3 linked regions of the Homo sapiens genome follow. The protein of the gene in region 2 purifies or fractionates together with the protein of the main gene of each other region. This does not show direct contact. Each region holds a gene or a part of one and is shown on either strand. Other genes may lie near its edges.

Region 1 (6,787 bases), on a different chromosome or scaffold from region 2:
AAACTTGTTATAACTAGATGATAGTTTCTGAATTGCGTAATTTCTGTGTTCAAAGATGAGTGTCATTCAAGGCAGAACTCATTCCACTCCTAATAACGTTTTATAGAAGTAGTGAAGATTTGACTGTTTTTCTCTTACAGCCTCAAAAACTGGTAGAATCTGAGTGTCTTCAGGCCAACCTGGTGGAAATGTTGTTCTCTGAAGATTAAGATTTTAGGATGGCAATCATGTCTTGATGTCCTGATTTGTTCTAGTATCAATAAACTGTATACTTGCTTTGAATTCATGTTAGCAATAAATGATGTTAAAAAAACTGGCATGTGTCTAAACAATAGAGTGCTATTAAAATGCCCATGAACCTTTAGTTTGCCTGTAATACATGGATATTTTTAAGATATAAAGAAGTCTTCAGAAATAGCAGTAAAGGCTCAAAGGAACGTATTCTTGAAGGTGACGGAAATACCTAAAAACTCCTAAAGGTGCAGAGCACACCTTCCAAATCTCTCAAAAGATCAGTATCTTTTATTTTAAGTTATCTCCATCTGCAAAGCAACTGATGATATTCCTGAAACCCCTTCTTTGATTTTGGAATGTAGAACCTAACCTCACCACTGAAGGAAAGCACATGACCTCTAATCTAGCCTCTGCTTAATTCAGGCAGTTTTGTTTTGTTTAATAAAAAACAGACTCCTGAGCACTAGAAGCAGTTTGTTTTGCAGCTGTCTCAATGTGCTTTACTTGGGATGAGGCAGGTGGCGGAGAGCGGCCGGAAAGACTCTATAACCCAGTTCTGGGAAGAACTCCAAGCTGGGAGTCAGTCACACTGACTCTACCACTTACTAGCTGTGTAACCACAGGCAAGTTACTCACCCCGTCCAAACCTCAGTTTTCTCTTCTATAAACAAGGTTCTTAGAATAAAATGAGAATTCAAGGAAGCACTTAACATAGCACCTGGTTTGTGGTACCTCCCAAATCAATGGTAGCTTTCCCAAATGAACACAAGTATTTGAGGCTCCTCATGTTTGTTCTAAAGTCAAGAGTCCAGTTAGTAACTAACCACTAGTTGTCCTGCCATGACTAGGTCAAGTGAGGCCACAGTGATTCAGTGATTCTTAAAGCCACCTTGCAAAGCAGGTAATACAGTTATTTCCTGTCCTGCAGAATTCAAGAACCTTTATGCAGTTCCTGTCCTATGATTTAAAGAGGTCAGTGACTCCGCTACTCTCACTACATCTTAGAGTAGAGTGGTAGAGTAGTTGATCTGAGACAGTAAGGTTCCAGGAGATGGTCTTGCCCTACTATATGTCAGGAACAGCTAGCCTTAGAATTCAGTATACTTGGTGGCCCACCCCTACCCCATGCCCCAGTGCCTTATTTGGTCTAAAGCACCTAACTTTTCCATTCTTAATCAGCTGATTATGCTAAATGCGTAAAAAAGAAAAACACCTTACAAATCCACAGGGAAATCAAAGAACAATTCAGGTTTAACAGAAATAGTCTATTAACAATAAAAAGTTGGATGAAAAAGCACACTAAAGGTTCTAGGGGCTACCATAATAAAGGTAGATAGGAAGAGTTTTCATTTTTTTTGTCTTCACTGTACAAAAGAAATACATTATATACATGTATTAAGTGCCTCGTTTGTATCCAGTTTTTCATTTTCCCGATGTGTTATTTTGCTGTTGCTGCTCTGCCAAGGCTTGCTGAAGGCGCATCCGCTTCCGGGAATAGTGCTGCCAATGTAGAATCTGCTGTTCATCAATAAATTTCGCACACTGAGCATTCACCAGCTCCTTTCGGAAGTGTTCATATTGGAGCAGCTCTAACATGTGTAAACACTGAGGGTACCTGGGTTTAAGTTTGTAAGTGAATGAACAACATAATTTAGGTAAATAATGCCAAGGTATAATTCAGTTATTCTCTTAAAAACGATCTTGTAGCCTACCATTTCTATAACAGTAACTTAGTACACTCTGGTAGCATAGGGTTTTTTCCCCGATTAGTCATCAAAGGTCAGTGTTCAATATTTTCGAAAATGAGAAGGTTTAAGTTCAGAAAGATTAAATTAACTTGCTCAAGACCACACAACACAGTAACTGGTAAGCAGAGTGAAAATTTAGGGACAAACCATGCTATTCCCTTCTAGCGGTTTCCAACGTGAAGAACATGAACATATTTTAGTAATTATGTGTTTAATTGATAGTTACTCATTTTTCCTTCAATAGGGATAAAAAGACAACTTTCATTTAAAAGTGAGTGTGAAAGAGGACTATGCGCATACATTGTACTCTTGTTGTCCACAGGGATATACCAATTCTGAAATTAGATATACTCTAGGATTGGACAAGCAAATATACTGTGGATAAGGACAGCCAAATTTCTGGCTATCAGAAAAGGAGTTATAGACATGGAAAGGAAAAAGGCTAGAATGAACCCTGTGTTACTGAGCTGGTATTGAAAACATCAGTATGTACTTACGGCTTTTAATATAGACATAGAATAAACATGTATATGTGTGTGCATGTATACACATACATACATATATATATAGTTCTTGAGCTTTGTGTACTGACAGGGCCTAGAAGCAATGACACTGTGGTACTAATGAACACACAATGACCAGACTGTGGTTTCCAAGGAGCAGGTTTCCTTGGAGAAAAGGGTGATTCAGGGATAAGACAGGAAAAGTACAAGATGAGCCTGGAACATTACGTAGTGCCAGAAGAAAAAGTGCTAAAAATTCCTGGGAGGATCAAAAGTATTCAGGAGCCAACTTGAAGGGCCTCCCAATGGCCAAATCTGGAATACTTAGCGCAAGAAAATACATAATTCTAATTCATAATTCTACTAAAAATAAGAATCCAAAAGTCCACACTAAATGGATGTAAATTTCTTTAATAAAATAATAGGAAACAAGGGAATATAATTCCTTACAATCGAATTCCAAACTAATAAATGCAGAATGATAGAATTAGAAAATCATCACAGTAAAAAATGTTTCAGGCAATTATCTTCAAAAGATGCTAAAACAGGCAAAATACATGTAATATGATATTTACATAGTCTCAAAGGATTTCCCTATAAGATACTTATTAAATACACAAGGAAAAATAGCAACTTAATATGGAGAAACCTAGACGGTACCACCCTCAACCAAGTTACCAAAATTTACGTCACCAGTAGTGGGACAAATAGACTTCATGTGACTGCAGATATATGAAGGATACAAATCATTTCTGTCATAGTCATGGAAAAGAAAAGACCACTGAGATGAAAGGAGACTAAGAAGACATGACAGCAAAATGCAACATACGGGCCTAGACTGGATCCTGCACTACATACAGCACACCAGCAGAACAACTGGCAAAATGTGAATGAGGTCTGTAGATTAGGTAATAATATTAATGTGCTGATTTTTGCTGATTGTAGTGTTACACATTTGGAATACGTGGGTGAACAAAATACAGGAATTATCTTTACTATTTTTCCAGCTATTTTGTAAGTGAAATTATTTCAAGTTGAAAAGACATAAAAGCTAACAGACAATTAAAATACATTAACATATAGGAAGTGTGGGGAAAAGAGATCAGATTGTTCCTGTGTCTACGTAGAAAAGGAAGACATAAGAAACTCCATTTTGATCTGTACTAAGAAAAATTGTTCTGCTTTGAGATGCTGTTAATCTGTAAATTTAGCCCCAACTCTGTGCCCCCAGAAACATGTGCTATATTGAATCAAGGTTTAATGGATTTAGGGCTGTGCAGGATGTGCCTTGTTAACAATATGTTTGCAGGCAGTATGCTTGGTAAAAGCCATCGCCATTCTCCATTCTCGATTAACCAGAGACACAATGCACTGCGGAAGGCCGCAGGGACCCCTGCCCAGAAAAGCCTGGGTATTGTCCAGGTTTCCCCCAACTGAGACAGCCTGAGATATGGCCTCGTGGGAAAGGAAAGACCTTACATCCCCCAGCCCGACACCTGTAAAGGGTCTGTGCTGAGGAGGAGTAGTGAAAGAGGGAGGCCTCTTTGCAGTTGAGATAAGATGAAGGCTTCTGTCTCCTGCTCGTCCCTGGGAATGGAATGTCTTAGTGTAAAGTCGACCATTCCCATTCGTTCTATTCTGAGATAGGAGAAAACCGCCCTGTGGCTGGAGGCGAGATATGCTGGCAGCAATACTGCTTTGTTGCTCTCTGCTAGTTAGATATTTGTGTAAAGTGAAACATAAATCTAGCCTATGTGCACATCCAGGCACAGTACCTTTCCTTGAACTTATTCATGATACAGATTCCTTTGCTCACGTTTCCCTGCTGACCTTCTCGCCACCTGTTGCCCTGCTACACTCGCCTCGCCAAGACAGTAAAAATAATGATCAATAAATACTGAAGGAACTCAGAGACCGGCACTGGTGCGGGTCCTCGCATGCTGAGTGTGCCGGTCCCCTGGGCCCACTGTTCTTTCTCTATACTTTGTGTCTTATTTCTTTTCTCATTCTTTCATCTCCACCTGACGAGAAATACCCACAGGTGTGGAGGGGCAGGCCCCCTTCAGGAAGTATGCAGATAAAGCCAAAGTTGCACAAGTGATATGCAAATGACTAAAGTGTGGAAAATAGGATACTACAGCAATGCTTCTAAAACTTTAATGTGTATATGGGTCACTTCTTAAAATGCAGATTGAATCCTTAGGCCTGGAGTGGGGCCTGAGCTCTGCATTTCTAAAAAGCTCCCAAATGAAACCAATGCTACTGATGTGAACACCACATTGAATAGAGGGCTTAATACCATGCTTCTAAGATAGTAACTTCCAAGACAGCAAAGATTTGCTATCCACACACTAAAAATACACAGTTGCTCTAATTGTTGGCTGCTTATGCTAGAATGCTCTATTCACACCTGCCCTGGCTAACTCCCTTTCATGACAGCATTAGTAGTTAAAATGACCAGGATGTTATGTTCCAGCCAGGTGGCCTTTAACAAGGTACTTAACCTCTCTAAGGTTCAGTTTCTTCAACTGTAAAATAATGTGACAACCAAGAGAATGGTCTCAAGTAGCATTTAGTCAATAACTAGAATTTAGACATGCAGTGATTATATCAGAATACCTTAGATGACAATAAAGAATCATACTCTGATAGGCTACAAGTCAACAAGATGAAATAGAAGCAGTATAAAAGGGAAGTTCTGCATTTGGTGTTTTTAAAAAGAAACAACATAGGGAGAACCCAACAGCATGATGAAAATAAGAACTGAAGGATTTTAGTTGACATAATGCTTCCAGCAAGTCAACAATGTGATCCTCTTCCCCACTCCCACCCCCAAAAGTAATATAAACTTAAGTTGAATTAACAGAGGTGTATGACCACATGAAGAAAAGAAAGGACCTCTGGCCCACTGTACTCTGACCACACCTGAAGGCCTGTGTTTAGTTCTTGGCTGAACTGCATAAAGTACAACTGCCAAATATCCAAAGGAGGGAACCTCAACTCATGAGAACTCTGGACACCATGGCACAATGGCAGAGGGTAGTTGAGAAAAATAGATGGAAGAGAGATGTTATAGTGGCACCTACTGGCTATCAATGAAGCAGGCCAAGTGGTAGAAAGTGTCTCTTCCACCAGGTGGAAAGCAGCTAGTAGTGACAGCTGCTCTCAGCTTCAGCCCAGTTGTTGACTTGGGAGAATTAAGATCTATGGTTACTAGATCTTCCAGATTTGAAAGAGTAGCTGGAAATCTGCATTTGTTATATACAACTTTCTGATCTTTAAATGTTGGCAAGTATTAAAAAAACTAAAATCTTCTGCAGACTGAATAAAACACCCAAAAGGGGCTAATTTGCAGTCTCTCTTGAATGTAAATATCTGGAAGGCTGTTGTCCTCAAGAGGGTATAGAATGGTTCTAGCTTCATCCAGGGACAAACAGACTGGGGCTACAAGGAGGTACATTATATCACAATATAAGGAAGAACTTTCTAATATCTGGCTAACAATCGAATCAGCTGTCCCTGACAGAGTAACACGGGCTCAATGGAAACCTCCAGAGTGTAGATGACCATCTCTCGGCAACGTTGTGGGTAAGATTAAACTTGTTGGTGGCTAAGGCTTCCAACACTGAGTCTGTAAATCTACATACATACAATATTCGTTGAAGTCTACTTTTCTTAAAAGTCTGTTCTTTGGATTATTAAATGGATAAAAAGCCAGAAAAGGTGCAAACGGTCCTGCAGGCAACATAAGACGTATGTGCTTCGTGAGTCAATTGTTATTGGACACAGAAAAGTGACTTTGAGAGAAGTTTGAAACATTTTCCTCTCAAACTTTTTTTTTTTTTTAAAGGTTCATTATTGCTTTCTACCTGCTTAAGACAAAGCAGGGGTGTGAGTTCAAGGTGGGTTGGTTTTTTTTGTTTTTTTTGTTTTTTTTTTTTAACCATTAAAAGGGAATTGCTTTGTGGTTATAATATGTTTCTTGCAACTTAGTAAGCCTTAACATGAAAGTGTCTGCTGAACGACCTGAATGGTAAATATATATATATAAATGAGTTAATGCATATGAAGCATTTAGCACTGTTCCTGGCAAATAAGAGGCCTTAAATAAAAGACAGCAACTCTAAGACTCAGGTAAGATCACCTCCTTCAAATAACCCCAGAAACACCTTCCTTACAGATACCCTCTTTTAATTTCAGCCCATGGCTTATGCTACTACATTTACAGATTGTGAGTTCTTAGGGACCAGAAACCTGGTGAGATGGGAAGGGTGGTAAAAGACAAGGTCAGAAAAGGCAGGG
Region 2 (8,985 bases):
TCACCGTAGAGAAATATTTTATTACTGAAATTGTTCAGAATTGCCAGCATATAGTGACAATAAAAAGCAACTAACTTTTAATGTGCTTTATTATTATTTTTAAATCATCTACAGATAATGCATCCCTTGTTGCCTATATTAGGGGGCACCAATCCTTCCACTTTCCACCACTTAGTACACCACTAACAGACAGAGCCTTCTGAAATGATCTGTTCTATACTACCCCTATGTCAAAGAGAATCTACTTAAGATGCATTAGCAGGAAGAGCTTTACCATAAGAGAGATAAAAGAAACTCGGTATCATAATTTTCACTACCATACTTAATACTAATCTAAGTGGCTTAAGTATATTTATATTATTACATGAAATTTAAATATTGGTTTTAAAAACCAGTCTGTATTTACCTAATATACATATGTATTTCAAGTGAAAAAAAAATTTACAAGAAAAAGAAAATGTAGAGCTATCTTAGCATAACTGACTCTACGGGGAAAAAAATGTCCTTAAGCCACAGTTTTTTCTTTTAGAGATCATAAAAAGGACTGGTAGCTCAAAAGTAGAAATGTTTTTCCCTAACTTGACTCCACCCCAATGGCCAAAATTTATTTTGAGCTTCACAAAATGCCAAAGGATTTGTCTTATTTCTGTTATGTAAATCTATTTTTTGTTTTCTTTTATTTTTTAGAGATGGAGTTTCGCTCTGTCGCCCAGGCTGGAGTGAAGTGGCGCGATCTTGGCTCACTGCAACCTCAGCTTCCTGCGTTCAAGTAATTCTCTGCCTCAGCCTCCCGAGTAGCTGGGATTACAGGTGCCCACCACCACACCCAGCTAATTTTTTGTATTTTTAGTAGAGACGGGGTTTCACCATCTTGGCCAGCCTGATCTTGAACTCCTGACCTCGTGATCCACCCGCCTTGGCCTCCCAAAGTGCTGGGATTATAGGCATGAACCACTGTGCCTGGCCTGTAAATCTATTTTTATAAGTGAAATATTCTAACTGTATTAAAAATAAAAGTTTGCATAAAGAAACAAGTTCAACCAAATTTCTGCTGTTACTGGTCCTAGTCTAAATGCTTTGTAGGTATGAGAACTGGAGATAAAGTAACTAACATCAAATGTACTACAAGGCAATTCCCTAAAGCTAGAAGAAAGAAGTATAAACTGTGCCACTGGAACAGCACATTGAAGGCCAGAGACTAAATCCACTAAATTTGTGAAGAACATCTTTGCGAGAGACCAGATGGGCTCCGCCTCATAGCCTACAGGATATTTCCTTTGTATACAGGTGATTAGAGACAAAATAATCACTTTTAGCATTGTGTTTATATTTGTTTGAAATGAAGGTGCCTTTATAAACCTTATTATATAGTTACTATCTTTACAAAGAAAAGAACTATAAAAGCAATGTAATTATGTAGTAAGAAAGGGCAATTTGAAGTTTAGGTAATTTAAATCCATGAAAATTTAATGAATAATAATATGCTAGACCAGCAGTCCCCAACCTTTTTGGCATCAGGGACCAGTTTCATGGAAGAAGTTTTTCCACGGAGCGGGGTGGGAGGGGATGGTTTCAGTATGAAACTGTACCACCTCAGATCATAAGGCATTAGCTAGATTCTCATAAGGAGCGTGCAATCTAGATCCCCCGCATGTGCAGTTCACAATAGGGTTCTGGCTCCTATGAGAATCTAATGCTGCCACTGATCTGACAGGAGGCGGAGCTCAGGTGGTAATGCTCACCCACCGCTCACCTCCTGCTGTGTGGCCTGGTCCCTAATGAGCCATGGACTGGTCTGTGGCCTGGGGGTTGGGGACCCCTGTGCAAGATGGGTGAAAAAAGGCATAAATGACTTTGCAACGTAAAATTAAAAAGTCAGTTTCTTAAGTTTTTAAATTCTCAAAAGTTCAATGCACCTGAACACAGCAAGGCTTCTAATAATATACTTCAATTATGATTAATAAAGGTGATTGGCCAACAGACTGCTAATATAGAGGGGCTTAAAATATAAGCATATTGAATTAACATTTTCCTTTTCTAATATGTAAATTAGTATGCAGTAGGCTCCCAAAATTTTATTTTCAAGTTATTATAAATATATAAATTTCTACAGTTGGCCTTGTATCTAATAATCAATTTAAAGCAAGCCAATGCTTTATTTATGAACTTAAAAGGAAACAGAAGCTTAGGAACACAAATGTCTCTTCTTTCACTTTGAAATAAATACCATCTAGTGTATGTCAGAGAAGCAGGAGGCATTATATAAAAACACTACTAGGCCATGTTTTGAGAAGGTAGCATTCTCACTACTTCTATAAGGTTTGCAGGCCTACATATAGCACTGGTATCTACAGACGACTAGAAAAGTATCCAACTGTAATGCATCTTTCTAGTTTAAACCAATTACAGGTCAACTTACCAAATCTCTGTGCAACACCCAGTTAGCATGCAGGTAGTGAATACCATCTAGGATCTGATATAATAGTGACTTCACCATTCCCCGAGGTAACTGAACTGGCTTCTTGTTTGCTTTAGAAGCTCTGTGAAACTTGATTATATGCTGAAAGAAAGAAAAAAATATCAACAGAAGCTTAAAAAAAGGAAAAGATAATTTGATGTATAATATTTTCCTAACAGAAAAAGAAACACTCAGGGATTCCCATAGATATTGAAAATATAATTTCGTACTCTGCTGAATAACATAAACAACTTTAAAATTCCCTAATAACTGGGGCTAAAATTCCATTTCCTACCCATATGACAGCATTTCAGGAGATAAATTATCACAATAGGGAATCAGAAAATATTGTGCTTTTATTTTTAAAGCATAATTAAAAATCAATTACTTTCAGAGTATACTTGATTCCTGTTTATCTGGTAGATAAAATGAAAAAAAAAAAAGAACAAAATTCAAGAGATACTTCTGGCTGGTTGACATAGCATAGAATTAGAACCTATTTATGACACAGGTTATAAAGAAAGCAAGTGGGGAGATGCTTCAATAAAATACACACAAGCACAAAGAAATGATATACCAGTTCACAATGGAAAAATGTAAAAATGGGAAAGATTCTGAGGAAAATAAAAACTGCCTTGTACCATCCATCAAAGCTTTCTATGTATAATGTTGTTAGACATCCAGTAAAACAAAGCACAACTTTATACATAGAAAAATTACTTTATGAATAAATGTGCCTTACAAGTTTTTTCTTGAAAAGTTTCAAATGCTCTTGATAGGACTCATTTTCTTAATTAGATCACTCTTAAATTGCAGGAAAATCTATAACTCGGCTGCAGTAAACTATGCCTTGCACACCACTGTACATATCCCTGAACCTAATATTGCACAGAGCAGACCCTTGGCCAATACATGTAAGTAAATATTAAGCATGTTCTTGAAATTAGTAGACATAATAAAAATAAGAGATATTTAACATTATAAGTTAACATTTTCACTTGCTATTTTCTTATGATATACAGAATATGACACAAGTAAGGAATAACTAATGATTAATGAATAAAGGAGCTTTACTCTCCAAGGTAAAAATATATAGCAAATATCTACGAGAAGGTAAAGTGTAGCAGTTTGCACATATGTAGTATGACTAATCTAAATTAGCAGCATTAATCTACTTTAATTTTCTTCTCAGTCTTTTTTTCAAAGTATTTAATAGCAGGCAAACAAAACAGAGCTACAACAATTTAATAATCTAGGCTGTTTTGTCACCTGTCCTAAAATATGATGTGACAATCAAGTCTGTTCTCCTTAAGAAGAAGATTCTTGGGCCGGGCATGGTGGCTCACGCCTGTAATCCCAGAACTTTGGGAGGCTGAGGCGGGTGGATCACGAGGTCAGGAGATCAAGACCATCCTGGCTAACACGGTGAAACCCCGTCTCTACTAAAAAATACAAAAAATTAGCCGGGAGTGGTGGCAGGCACCTGTAGTCCCAGCTACTCGGGAGGCTGAGGTAGGAGAATGGCGTGAACCTGGAAGGCGGAGCTTGCAGTGAGTGGAGATCCTGCCACCGCTCTCCAGCCTGGGCGACAGAGCGAGACTCCATCTCAAAAACAAACAAACAAAAAAAACAAGAAGAAGATTCTTTGGCTCTCTCCAAGCTTAATAAAAACAGGTAAAATAAATATAAATAAAAATAAAATAGGTTAATTTTTTGAAAAAAAAAAAATTAAAACTCTGCCGCAGTAAGAATCAAAGGAACAAATATGTAGGAGAGGTAAGGTAATTAATCAATTTCATATATATTTCTTCATGTACACTTTCATTAGAGTATTACAAGTGACTTTTTTTACCAATGTTTTAAAATGACAAATCCTACTGTCATTTTCTTTATATTCCAGGGCTACATAACAAATGCAAAATATACATACCATGAAATCTCACCAACGCCTAAGTGATTTTTAAAAATAACTATTTTTATTGCGACTGCCTTGTTACCCTCTGCTGCCTAACCCCTACCAATTCACTTCAACATTCCAATTAAAATAGATAAAGGAGTGGGTTTTAGTAGGCTAAATTATCATTTGTTTTTTATGAAAATGAACATTAAAAATATTTATTTGGCTTAAATATTATTAAGATGATGATAAAGCTAATGAACTAGTTATATGCACTGTACAATATTACCCACAATAAAATTTGCTGAAGTATAATCATTGTACCTACATGTAAAATTAAATATTACAAACTAGCAGCTAGAAATCACATTGAGTGAAATATTATACTATCTTCTATGCTCTACTGTGGTTTATCACAAATCTTGTTTATAAACCAGCCTGGAAAATGCCTTAAGTTTAAATTATATGACTTTATTTCTTATGAGGCTCAGCATAGTGAGTGTTCAATTTAATACTGGCCACGCTGATTTAACAGGGTTGATCTGATTAGATTTCTTTTAAAATAGAAGAACAGAAGAACCAAAGATTTAAAAAAAAAGAAGAAATTAATAACCAGCATGAACTTTGGAAAGAGTTTCATAAAAGAGAGAAAATTTCATGTATACATAATAAAAAGCATAGCCATGCTAATTTAGTAAATATAGATTAGTATGCAAATCAATACAATGTTTAAAGACATTATTAAATATCATTTAAAAAGCAGTTCACAGGAGTATAGTAATTCTTAATGAATTAACACAAGGTAATGTTAGATGTTTAGTTTACTTGTTTCTTAAACTATAATCTGTATTAACAGATGTTCTCTATACAGATTGATAAGAATGTCAATTTTGTTACTATGTTTCAAAATTACTTTGGCTATCCTATTATAGATTTTCTATATATATATCTCAAAGTTTTATCTGCAAGGTAACGTTTCAGATTTTTAAAAAATATATAAATGTTATATTTAATAAAAGAGCAAATTTTATAGTTACCTTAGAGTTCCTCAAATACCAATTTAAAAAATAATCTGCTTAGTAAACTGCAAAATACTGAGGCTGGTGTTTGTATTTCAGCTACTCAGACAAGATAAAATTAAGTTCTTATTTTACAGTAATTTTTTTCAATATAGCATCATTTTCTGCAATGCATTAGATAAACTAATAAACTGGCTGGGCTCAGTGGCTCAGGCCTGTAATCTCAGCACTTTGGGAGGCCGAGGTGGGCAGATCACCTGACATCAGGAGTTAAGAGACCAGCCTGGCCAACATGGTGAAACCCTGTCTCTACTAAAAATACAAAAATTAGCCGGGCTGGAGTGCAACAGTGCAAACAGGACCCACTGCAGCCTCGACTTCCTGAGCTTCAGCCCCATGAACAGCTGGGACCACAGCATGTGCCACTGAGCCCAGCTAATTTTTTTTATTTTTTGCAGAGACAGGGTCTTGCCATGTGACCCAGGCTTGTCTCAAACACTTTGGCTCAAGTGATCTTCCTGTCTTGGCCTCCCAAAGTGTTGGGACTACAGGTGTGACCCACTACACTTGGCCTAAAACTATTCTTATCATAGGTCAGAAAACAAAGAACTAAAAGTCCCAAGAGATATTAAAATTTATTTTCACACGAATCTTATTTTGTAATAGAGCTCTCATCCACAAAAAATTCCTCCAATGCAAGATTATGCCCAATTCAAGTAAGTACAATACAGTCATGCATCACTTAATGAAGGGATACATTCTGAAAAATGTGTCGTTAGGCAATTTTGCAGTTGTGTAAACATCACAGACTGTACTTACACAAACCTAGATGATAGACTCTACTACAAACCTAGGCTATATGTTATAGCCTCCTGCTCCTAGGCTACAAACCTGTACATGTTACTGTACTGAATAAGGAAGGCAATTGTGACACAATAGTAAATAAGTGTGTTATCTAAACATATGTAAACATAGAAAAGGTACAGTAACAATATGGTACTATAATCTTAGGAGACCACTATCATATATGCAGTCCCTAGTTGACAATAACATTATATGGCGCATGACTATACTGTATTGAACTACTGCCACTGAAAATAAGAATTAGGATATTAAATTCAATTGTGAATAGTTAATAATTAATAACAGTTTCCTACATTTGTATATTTATAAAACTTTTCAAATACAAGATTGTTCCTCAGAAAAACGTTGTTAAAAAAGGCAAGAAAGTATTACATTTTACAGATGGGGTAAACTACAGCTTCAAAGCCATTAAAAGACTTGCTTAATGCTATACGACAAATAATGGTAGAACTATTAGATCTCTCCAAAGATAGCATATTCGTCCTCCTACATGAGGATACCACCTTCTCATTTTATGTTCCCTTTATACAACGAAATAAAAGGAAATATGCTACTTTTCTATTTTAGAGCAAAATTTTATATATATTAGTTACTTTTTATTTTATCAAAAAACTATATGAAGCAATATTGAATAGTTGTTGAACACTCTTTAGATTCTATTGTTTTCTTTAGTATCTGTTAAAAGATCAAAGTGACAATATTGAAAAGTAATAATACAAAGTCAAATACTCTAGCCTTCGTCATGCCACCAACCACACTCTATGAGGTTACTTTTATTTTAAAAACATAAGTCTCATAATAAGCAGAACACCTAACTGTTTTTAGTTACTCTTAACAATCCCTGACTGTTTGCTCATGTCTGCCAGCAATTCACCTTACCCAGAGGTCATGTTCAGCATAGTCAAACAGAAGCCACACCTTCCTATCAGCATGAGACAGAAACACCTTTTGAAGAGAAATGACGTTTGGATGCTTAAGCTCTCGAAGTAACTGCAAAACAAAGGAGATGCATTAACTATTTCTGTCACAAAAATAATGTAAAAAACCCCACACCATTTGTAATTCAAAGGCAATACAAACCCACAGGTAAACAATCTTAAACATCTAATAAGCACCCACACAATTCTGAGACGGATACTTCAGTAACAAATGAGAAGATATCTGTGAGGAAAAGACACTGAACAGGTATTATCTGAGTAAATCTATTTTGTTGTTGTTTGGTTGGTTATTTTAATTTTTTGATTGTGGTAAAATATATCTAACATAAAAAGACCATTTTAATCATTTTTAAGTGTACAATTCAGTGGCATCCTATAAGTATATTCACAATGTTCTGCGATCACCACCACTATCCATTTTAGAATTTTTTTTGTCATCCCAAACAGAAACTCTGAATCCATTAAACCAGCGGTTCCCAACCTTTTTGGCATCAGAAACCATTTTTGAGGAAGACAAATTTTCCACGGATAATGGGGTGGAGGTGCAGGGCGGGGGCTGGGGGAAGGGGCAGATGGTGGATGGTTTCAAGATGAAACCGTTTCACCTCAGATCATTCATTAGGCATTAGATTCTCATAAGGAGCATGCAACCTAGATCCTTCACATGCGCAGTTCACAATAGTGTTCAAGCTCCTATGAGAATCTAATGCCACTGCTAATCTGACAGGAGGCAGAGCTCAGGTGGTAATGCTCGCTTGCCTGTGGCTCACCTCCTGCTGTACGGCCCAATTCCTAACGTACCGGTGCTGACGCAGGGACCCCTGCGTTACACAATAATCCCACCGCCTTTTTCCCCAAGGCTCTGGTAACCTCTACTCTACTATCTGTCCCTAAGAATCTTCCTAATCTAGATATTTCATGTAAGTGGAACCATACAATATGTATCCTTTCATGCCAGGCTTATTTCACTTAGCCTATTTCATTCTTTATGGATAAATATACTCCACTCTATGCATATCTATATATATATCTATATAGATATATATATAGATATCACATTTTGTTTATCCATTCATCTGTTGATGTTCATGGATTGTTTTCACCTCTGGTTATTGTGATTAATGCTGCTATGAACAGTGGTATACACTATCTGATGAAAGTCCCTGCTTTCAATGCTTTGAGCATAAACCTAAAAGTGGAAATCCTGGATCAAATGATTGCTCTGTGTTTAACTTTCTGAGAAACCACCAAACTTGCAGCTGTACCATTTTACATTCCCATCTGCAATGTATGAAGGTTCCAATTTCTTCATATCCTCACCAACACTGGTTATTTCTCCCTTTTTTCCCTTAAAAATTAACATATATCCTAATGAGTATGAAGTAGTATCTCACTATGGTTTTGGTTTGCATTTGCCTAGTCAATAATGGTGTCGAACATCTTTTCATGTGCTTACTGACCATTTGTAGATCGTCTTTGGAGAAATGTCTATTTAGTATGTCTTTTGCCCATTTTTGAATCAGGTTGTTTTGTTGTTGCTGCTGAGTTGCAGGAGTTCTTTACATAGTCTAGATACTAATCCCTTATCAAATATATGATTTATAAAACTTTCTCCCATTCTGCAAGTTGTCTAGGCTTTGACATCACATAACAATTGAACTTGAAACAAATCTGTAGTTTGTAATCCTTTTTAGAAAATATCAAAGAATATTTGCAACATTAGAAGATGCAACATTCATTAACATCAATTATCATATGAAAATTAAGTTCAGCAACCCTGTGAGATACAGCACCTAATTTCAGGCATTT
Region 3 (3,934 bases), on a different chromosome or scaffold from region 2:
TCCCTATGCTAGAAACCAGGGGCTAAGGAAGAAATAAAAAAGTAGACATCTGGGGAAAGGCATTGCCTCTCAATGGTTCTTTTTTGTTTTTGAGATGGAGTTTCGCTCTTGTTGCCTAGGCTGGAGTGCAATGGTGCAATCTCAGCTCACCACAACCTCTGCCTCCCAGATTCAAGTGATTCTCCCTGCCTCAGCCTCCCGAGTAGCTGGGATTACAGGCATGCGCCACCAAGCCCAGCTAATTTTGTATTTTAGTAGAGATGGGATTTCCCCATGTTGGTCAGGCTGGTCTCGAACTCCTGACTTCAGGTGATCCACCAGCCTCAGCCTCCCGAAGTGCTGGGATTACAGGAGTGGGCCACTGCACCCAGCCTCAATGTTTCTTAATCTTGAGCATGTATCATAATCACATAGGCTTCTTAAAATACAGCTTGCTGGGACCTACACCCAGAAGTTTCTGGTTCAAAAGGTCTGGGATGGAGCCAGAGAACCCTCATTTATTTTTTATTTTTCTGAACCTACGGATTATACTAAAACTTTTATTTCTAGTAAGTCCCCAAGTGATACCAATGCTGCTGGTCCAGGACCACACACTTTAAGAACCACGGGCCTACATTAAGAAAACGGCAGGCAGAGATCCTCAGACACAAGGTCAACTCTCCACTAACACCTTGGTGGAAGAGCAGATGGACAGTCGGGGGAAGAAGAGAAGAAAGTGCTCATATAAAGTCCAATTAGCTAGGGGCAGAGTGGAGTTACTGAAAGGAAGACTTAGTCCTCACGGTCATTCAAAGAACCAGACTGACAATCTTTGCCATCTTCGGTGGCTTCCAAACTTATCCTGGATACGACCGTCCAACCAGCAGCTGGGAGAAGAGAATGGAGGATCATGCAAGAAATGTTTATGGGGCAAGCCTGGATTCCTATGCCCACATTTCACCGCCTACGACTTAGTCATATGTTCTCACAGAGATGCTGGGAGTAGGGAAATGTCCCTGGCTGGATTGCCACATCTTGACAACATATCTTCAAAGAGCAAGAATCTTTGGTAGACACCTAGCAGTCTCTGCCATCAAACCCCTTTCCCATTGTGGACTTAAACAAGTCTGAGCTTAGCTTTAAAGAAAATGTATAGCTAATGACACAGACATCTTAATTACTAAAATTAATGTCTGTAACTTAAAGTGACCAAAGGACTTATTACCTGAGTGACTGGAAAAAAAAACAACAATTTATGGGACTTCCCTGCAAGAGTCCATTCAGGATAGGGAGAAAAGACTGAGCTAGTGGGTTTACAGAAGCAGTCATGAGGAAAAAATGAAGTTTCTATTTTATAACTCTACTGGGCTCCTCTCTATCAACATGTTATGCTACTTTTTGGAGCTTAAGCAAAATTTTTAATGGAATAAGTCTAAAGATTTCATAGTTTTACATGTAGAGAGCTTAATATCCATTTATCTATCATTCTTAAAGCAAATGCTAAATCCCCTTTTCAAAGACGAAAACTTTGCTATTATTGAGGTTATCATCAAAGTTTTACTGCAACTCTAAAACATAGGAATGTCCCATACAACAGCAGCTAACACTTTGCTTTTTAAAGTGATTCTTCTTAGTGCAGGGACACTCATTTGTCTATGCTTGTTATACAGCGAAATTACTGCCTATGACATCTCATAATTGAAAAATTTGGAGTCAAGATTAAAGCTGTTTACATTTTTAGTGAAACTTCTCTTAAGACTGTCCAAAAGAAAATGAACTAATATATGATGCTATTATCAAAAGGAAAAAAAGAAAAAGAAACATCTTTCATGGTCTTTCATTCATCTCATCAATTAGGACACACAAGGCAGCATCTTTCTCTATAATCTGATCTCTCCTATGACCTGAATTTTCTCTTTGATGTTCATTCTGTCCAGTACAATTGTTGCTATCATCAGCATCCATTGGTTCAGTTTTTACTCTCATTCCTGCTTCTGAATGAGGCAAATCATCAGGCAAAGAAGCCAAGCAATTCTGAATCATTTCAATTACTCGTTCCAGGTGCTTTTGAAATCTCTCAGCTGTTTCAAGCCGTTGACGTTTCTGGACCTCCATCATGACTCTCAAGGTCTCTCTTGCTTGGTGGGGTCGGTATTCATTTATAAGATGATGCACGTGTACAAAAAGCAGCTTAAGATCTTCTAGTTTCTCTTCTCGTTTTATACTCCCAGGGCTCCTTATTAAAATATCTAAAAGGTCCAAGAAATTAATAAGGATAGACATATTAAGTTTTCTCAGTTCTTTCTTGTGATCAAACTGCATAGGATGAAGCCGTTCGATGCCCTGACTTTCCAAAGGGCGGATGATAAGATCATCACATTGGAACTGATTGCCAAACATCATGTAACTGTCTTTTATTGGAGGGGGAGGCTTGGGAGCTAAGCCTTCTTGAATATTTTCATCCGTATATTCCTTGATATATTGCATTGGAGGTGGTGGAAGTGCACTCACTTGCTGTGGTTCACCCATTGTGGACTATCAAGAACCTATGGACACAGACCAAAGATTTATTAGAGCCACAAGACAAACCTGTTACATTTCATAACTACAGATGGAATATTTTCTTCCTTTTCTTCCAGCAGTTTGGGGCCGAAGACAAGATGATCTCCTTGGTTTCTAAAACTAACATTTATGATAGGGAAAGTCTGCCATCTTTTCTAAGTAGGCATTATATTCTCAACCATTCACATATTTTCCATTCTCTCTCTAATAATTTCATCAGCATTAAAAAATATGTAGCATCCTCTCATCTCTAAAGAAAATCTTCTGGACTCCATGCCCCTCACCACTTATGCCCCATTTCTTTACTCTTCCATAACCAAACTACACAGGCTGTCTCCCAATCTCATATCACAATCACTTTTGTTTTATGTTATAGATTTATTTCCAATAGCAAACACTTACTTGTATCTCTCATAAACACTCTGACAAAATTAACATTGCTAAATCCTAAACACATTATTATCCAAAGTTCCTGAATGAAATGATGATTCAGTTCCATACCCTTTTTGTCACAGTATACTATGCAATTTTATATGGACACATTAACTTTTGTTTGTTTTTTGAGATGGAGTCTTGCTCTGATGTCCAGGCTAGAGTGCAGTGGTGCAATCTCAGATCTCAGCTCACTGCAACCTCCGCCTCCTGGGCTCAAGCAATTCTCCTGCCTCAGCCTCCTAAGTAGATGGGATTACAGGCGTGCACCATGTCTGGCTAATTTTTGTATTTTTAGTAGAGACGGGATTTTGCCATGTTGGCCAGGTTGGTCTCTTTACTCCCCATCTCAGGTGATCCGCCCACCTTGGCCTCCCAAAGTGCTGGGATTACAGGCGTGAGCCACCACGCCTGGCCTGTATGGACACATTAACTTCTCTACAACTATCACAGAAATGTCAAACCCCAGGTTCAAACCCAGTATCTATGGCCATAATAACCTCTACTTATTCTACCTTAAGCCTAGGTATACCATCCAATGAGAAGATCCTTAAGTGCTCCTTTAGATTGGTGTTATCAGAGTTTCAAGATATAACACACTCTAACATCGGGTGGGGCAAGTATCCTACTAGAAGCAATATTATACTTAGAATTCGTGAGGTACTGAGGGCAGCTGTGGCGCAGCCCTGAGTTTCCACTATGCCACAGTGGTGCATAGGATGATGCAGCCTCGCCCTCCTAGGCTCAAGCGATCCTCCCACCTCAACCTCCCAAGCAGCTGGGACTACAGGCATGTCACCAAGCCCGGCTAATTTTTGTATATTTTGTAGAGACAGAGTTTTGCCATGTTACTCAGGCTTGTTTCAAACTCCTGAGCTCAAGCAATCCTCCTGCCTTGGCCTCCCAAAGTGCTGGGATTACAGGCGTGAGCCACCACACCCAGACATTTTAAAACTTTTAA

What was found. The genes of interacting proteins can lie anywhere in the genome.
Region 1: the proteins of CDK8 (region 2) and MED31 purify together in Homo sapiens (affinity purification with mass spectrometry; 7 studies listed by BioGRID and IntAct, with this or other methods). This does not show direct contact.
Region 3: the proteins of CDK8 (region 2) and MED7 purify together in Homo sapiens (affinity purification with mass spectrometry; 9 studies listed by BioGRID and IntAct, with this or other methods). This does not show direct contact.

What each region holds. Positions count from the first base shown.
Region 1 is NC_000017.11:6,642,811-6,649,597, forward strand, and holds the end of MED31 (mediator of RNA polymerase II transcription subunit 31), read right to left. Parts: intron 1,850-6,787; coding exon 1,657-1,849; 3' UTR 501-1,656; downstream 1-500. Other genes in the region: TXNDC17 (thioredoxin domain-containing protein 17), read left to right, coding at 141-209. UniProt on the Homo sapiens protein: Component of the Mediator complex, a coactivator involved in the regulated transcription of nearly all RNA polymerase II-dependent genes.
Region 2 is NC_000013.11:26,347,315-26,356,299, reverse strand, and holds part of CDK8 (cyclin-dependent kinase 8), read right to left. Parts: intron 7,229-8,985; coding exon 7,118-7,228; intron 2,561-7,117; coding exon 2,420-2,560; intron 1-2,419.
Region 3 is NC_000005.10:157,136,924-157,140,857, forward strand, and holds the end of MED7 (mediator of RNA polymerase II transcription subunit 7), read right to left. Parts: intron 2,526-3,934; 5' UTR 2,509-2,525; coding exon 1,807-2,508; 3' UTR 501-1,806; downstream 1-500. UniProt on the Homo sapiens protein: Component of the Mediator complex, a coactivator involved in the regulated transcription of nearly all RNA polymerase II-dependent genes.